Regions from separate parts of the Homo sapiens genome. Here region 1 is linked to region 2. Evidence: fine-mapped expression QTL. Tissue or cell type: follicular helper T cells. Region 2 holds a variant in brackets; the other region holds the start of a gene. All regions are shown on one strand. Distances are from middle to middle.

Evidence for each region. PIP is the estimated chance that this variant, and not a neighbour inherited with it, causes the effect.
Region 1: KIF3B starts here. The variant in region 2 is fine-mapped to the expression of KIF3B in follicular helper T cells (Schmiedel 2018, PIP 0.95).

The regions. Positions count from the first base shown.
Region 1 is chr20:32,276,377-32,279,056 of GRCh38, reverse strand. It overlaps KIF3B (kinesin family member 3B), which reads right to left and starts at 1,406. Exons shown (of 9, transcript NM_004798.4): 1 at 1,292-1,406. It overlaps LOC124904885 (a long non-coding RNA gene), which reads left to right and starts at 1,514. Exons shown (of 2, transcript XR_007067561.1): 1 at 1,514-1,753. RefSeq lists silencers at 1,031-1,210, 1,231-1,390 and enhancers at 1,044-1,554, 1,601-1,650.
Region 2 is chr20:33,224,044-33,226,723 of GRCh38, reverse strand. It overlaps BPIFA3 (BPI fold containing family A member 3), which reads right to left. Exons shown (of 7, transcript NM_178466.5): 3 at 2,262-2,369; 4 at 1,477-1,626; 5 at 234-318. Among named protein-coding and RNA genes, the nearest start is that of BPIFA3, 8.0 kb to the right of the region's middle. RefSeq lists an enhancer at 1,769-2,680. The variant C/T (reference allele first, on the strand shown) is at 1,607.

The DNA of each region.
Region 1 (2,680 bases), 950 kb after region 2:
AGCTACTCGGGAGGCTGAGGCAGGAGAATCGCTTGAACACACGAGGCGGAGGTTGCAGTGAGCTGAGATCGCGCCACTGCACTCCAGCCTGGGCAACAGACTAAGACTCTGTCTCAAAAAAAAAAAAAAAAAAAAGGATTCTTAAGCAGGTCCTTCCCTTTACTTTTCTGAACCTCAGTTTCCTCATCGGCAAAATGAGGATGACATCACCAGGCACCTGGCAAAGTCTACATAAAGATTAAATGAAATAATATGCCTGGTAAAGTGCTTCTTAATCATATGCTTGTAAATAGTTATTACTGCTTTAAGCACTTCCCAAAGGACACAAAGATGCCTTTTTTCTTCTGGAAGGGTCAACGAAGCCCAGGTAGAAAATGAGACCATGACCCCAGCTATCTACAAGGGGTTGACCTCAAAGAGTTTCCCAGGACTACTTGTAGAAGTACCTCCCTTGCTCTGAGCAGAATGGAGAAGTAAAACCGGGGTTGGGGGTTGGCATTGCAGTAGGACTACCCATATGAGCTGGCACTCTACACACCTACACCTTACCTGTCCCAAAGTCATCTCCTCCTGGAAGTCTTGCCCTCCTACCCTGGACGCCTCATAATAGCTGGTTGAGCACTTACTATGTGCCAAGCTACTTGACATACCCAGTCTCACTGATTTCCACAGTAGTCTATTACCTCATTTCACAGATAAGGAAAAGAAGACTCAGAGAAATTAACTTGCCCAGGGCCACACAGTTACTAAGTGGAAATGCCACGTCTCTAACTCGCTCAGACTTCAAACTGCCCTCTTGGTCTCCCATCTAGGGTGCCCTAAGAATTCTCCCTCTCCCCATTTAGGGCACTTTCACATACACTTCTCATTATCTTTACCACTCTGAGCAGCAATGTTAGGACCCCATTGAATAAACAGGTCAGCTAAGGCCAGGGAGGTGAAAAGACTTGCCCAAGGTCACACAGCAAGCCCAGCACAGCGCCGAGGTTCGGACCCCAGGCTCTCGCTTCCCCGCCCTCCTCCCAAACTGGGGCCCTGACCACCGCCTCAGGGCCCCCAGGTGGGCTGCGACCCAAGGTGGCCGTGTCTGGGGGTCGGGCCGCGACCCTGCCAGGGGAAGGAGGGGCAAGGCCGTCCGGACTACCAAAGGATGCCTAGGAGGCAGGGCAGAGGATGCTCCGGCTCGCGGGACAGCAAAGCCAGGCAGAGGCGCGGGCGCAGGTCGCAGGGAAAACCCCAGGCGGCCACAGGATTAGCCCTGCTCGGTGGGCGCCCGGCCCCTCCGACTCACCTGAGGCCCGAGCCGAAAGCGGGCGGCGGCGGCGGCGGCGGCGGCGGCGGCGGCGGCGGGGGCGGCGAACCCCTGGCTCAGCCATTCCCCGCTGCCCCGGATGGGGAGAGACAGTGGCCGCTCACTTCCTTAGCAACCTGGCTCGGCGACCCACTTCCTTAGCAACCGGTGTCAATTTCAATAACTTTATTGGCACACGAGCAGAGGACAGGGAAAGCCGGCTGGAGGGGTCTGGGCGGGGCTCAGGTCGGTGCTGGTGTTTAGCGGGGGCCCAACACACCTCGGTCTCCTCACCCACCTAAGCGGGGAGAGTGGCGCACAACGTGGCCTGACTCCATCCTCTGGTATCTCGTGCCTCAGTTTCCCATCTGTAAATGGAACACACGCGATTTCAGCCGCCGTTCAACCTTTCTAAAAGCTTTCACATCCATTATCTGACTGGTGTCTCAAACTGCTACTGAGGTAACTCCCATTTAGGGTGCCCCCAGTGACTCAATACGAACACCTATAGGCACCCTTGTTGTAGCTTTCCTGTCCTTCACCCAATCCAGTCAGTCACAACCGCCCCAGGCAAGGCCAGGCCACGCTCATCTCTAGCCTGCCTGAAATATCTGGTCTGTTTCCATTCTTTTGTCCAGCTCTGTCCGAACAATCCATTTTCCATAAGGTGGCCAGAGTAATTATTTAAAACAGATCATGCGGCCAGGTGCGGTGGCTCCCGCTGTAATCCCAGCACTTTGGGAGGCTGAGGCAGGTGAATCACCTGAGGTCAGGAGTTCGAGACCAGCTTGGCCAACATGGCGAAACCCCGTCTCTAATAAAAATACAAAAAATTAGCCGGGCGTGGTGGCGCATGCCTGTAGTCCCAGCTACTCGGGAGGCTGAGGCAGGAGAATCGCTTGAACCCGGGAGGCAGGGGTTGCAGTGAGAGAGATGGCACCACTGCACTCCAGCCTGGGCGACAACAGCGAAACTCCGTCTCAGATATAAAGATTAAAATAAATAAATAAATAAATAAATAAATAAAACAGATCATGCCACTTTCTGATTAATACTCGATTTAATGGAGTCTCATTGCTCTTAGAATCAAATATGAAGTCCTTATTACTTCCTGCAAAATTCGTTAAAACTCTATTCCAACCACACTGGCCTAGAAGGGCAGGTTCCAACCCCCATGGAACTTACACCTGCTGTTCCCCACTAAATAGAAACTGCATAAGAGCAGTCTTTTATTTGTTCACTCTTGTATCCACCATGCCTGGAACCAAGCTTAGTCAATAGTAGTTGCTGAACAAATATGTTTTGCTCCTTGAATAAATGAATACCTGAGATGGTCTTCTTCATCTGCCTACAACTACTTTTTGCCTGTTGTGGCAGATATTGCTACTT
Region 2 (2,680 bases):
ATAGAGACTATGGTGGATCCCATGCTACAGGTGGGAACACTGAGGCTCAGGGAGGCAAAGTCTCTTGCTCAAGGATAGGCTGGCAAAACTCATGGCCAAACTGAAATTTTAAATTGAGATTTTTCAAGCTCTAAAATCCAATGTTTGAAATCCTTTGCTAAATTGCCAGTGGATATATGCCCTAACCCTCGGACTCAAGGATGCTCAAGATGCAAAGTTTTTTCTAAACTTACCTGACTTTCTACCATGTGTGGGAGAACTTTTTGCAGATTCTCTTTGAGGTTGTAGAGAAACTGATTCATCTTTGGTGGGATAGCCCTAGAAAGAAAGGTAGAGGCACAGAACAGAACAGAGCAATCCAGGCAATATTAAAGCCAGGAGGTATGTGTTGAGTATACTTTCCACAGTCTTTTAGTCCTCACTCAGCCCCATGCCAGAAGTATCATTGTCAGTGATCATCAAAGGGGTAGCTCAGACCTTGCCCAAGGTCACACAGCTAATAAGTGCTGGTTATATTAGAAACATGGCAATAGAGCACCAGATTCCAGAGTCTTTCCCTTACACCGTCCTCCCATGAATGTCTGGTACAATCTAGGTACTCAATGAATATCTGATGAATAAATGAACAGACATCCACTGAGGTCTTCATTGCTTTCAGCATTCCGGAATTACAGAGATAAATCAGGCACAAGTCTTGCCTTCAAGGGACTTACAGTCAGTTGAAATTGAAAGACTTGGTCAGCCAGTCTATGGAGCTTTATTAAAGCTGTATTTTGTGTCTTGTTCACCACTGTATCCCTAGCATCAGGTGTGGTGCTGGCATACAGTAGGTTTTTGGGAAATATATGAATGAATGAGTGATAAGGAGGAGCTTCATAGAAGATGGGACGGGCATTCCAGGCAAGAAGATCAGCATGTGCAAAGGCACAGTGGTGTGAAAATGTACGGTGTGTGGTGGAGGACAAAGGGCTGAAAAGTTGGCAGGGGAGAGGACAAGCAGGGCCTTGAGTGAAATTTGGGAGTTGCTGTTTACCCAGAGGGCACTGGGAACCACTGGAGGCTTTGGAGCAGGGGCTTGGGCATGGCCAGATTTCTGTGTTAGAAAGTTATTTCTGCTGCAGGATGAGGAATGGAGTGTAGGAGGGGAGATCCGGGCCAGGGAAAGCCAGGTGAGTTTCCTGTAGTGCTCCAGGTAGTGGAGTAGGAGATGGAGATAAAAGAGAGAAGCTGAGGGCTACTAGCAAGTCATTGATGGGAACTTGTGATGATGGGCTTGAGGAGTGAGGAGGGAGAAGAGTCTGGCTTCTGGGAGGGTGGTAGGGTCATCACGGATGGGAACATGGGAGGAGGAGCAGATCCCGGGGGAAGGATGAGATCTGCTTTGGACTAATTTAGGAGACGGTCAGGAAGTGACCCTGCAGCTGGGGCTCATCAGGAAGGAGGCCCAGCTCTGGGGAGGGGCAGCTGGGGTCTTACTCAGTGAGGATGGCCACATGGACACTGCTGGGCTCTGCATCGCATTTGCCTATCACCAGATCCCTCCGGCCAAACTCGTCTTTCTCCAGCCAGAACTCCACAACGATGCTCATATGTGCACACATCTTTA[C/T]GATGTTGTTATCGAAGGACCTGCAGATGAGAGAGGAAGAGGAGGAAGGGCAAGGGGAGGAGGTAGAGAAAGAGTAGAAATCTCCGTATTGGCAAAGACGGGCACTGTCCACCGTTAGGGCTTCCCCTGGCACTCTGAGTCCTTTCAACAAACTAGGCCCAGTTAAATCCTGAAGTCAGTGATTAAAGAGAAAACAGCTGTAGCCAGAGTGACTCTGAAAACCCCTTAAATAGGCCTTTGGAAATTCAAACGTTGAGAGTTAATCTCTGTTTCAAAAATCTTTCCCATTTAGCTGCATCCTCCCTTTCTTGGGGGCAGTGGATGTCAAAGGATAGTTTGAACAGGAGGATGGTGAGCAGGGGCGATGAGATGATTACAGCAGTTCTCCCTTTCTCTCTTTAATCAAGCCCAGTTGTTGTGAACTCTCATAGGTTTGAATGAGCAAATGACTTCCTTCCACTGACTAATGATTGTCATCATATTTCAGGTGAAGAAACCAAGGCTCAGAGAGGTGAAGTGACTTGCCCAAGGTCACACAGCAAGTGGCTTTGGAAGCCAGGATTTGAATTTAGGTTGGGATCAGAAAGATCTGAATTTCCCAGGTTCCCTGCGAGGAGGGCCAGCACCTCTCAGATTCTGCTTCTGTATGACTCACGGTCTCAATTCAAGGTCAAATTCAAGTGAGATATTTGCCGAGAACCACTCCTTATGGAATGATATCTGGATCCCACCACAGTCCAGCTGAATGTTGGTGATGTTGATGCTGCACAAGGAAAGAGCAGAGGCCCCACAAGGGTGAGGGACTTCAGAACAGGTAAGGCTTCCTGCTGAGAAACAAGGCTGTCCGACTATAAAGAGGGCCTGGCAATGGGATTTGGACTGTGATTCTTTTACAGATGCTCTGAGGGCAAGAGTCAGGTGCGGGAGCCCTGGACTGCAAGCTGCCCCAGAGTGGCCCTAACAGTGCCACACAGTTTTGATTTGTGCAGCTGGGCCCCCACTGTTCCTTGTGTGGGCCTTCCACCTTCTCTTCTTTCAATCTTCCTACCTTCCCTCTTCACAGGCCTTGCACCT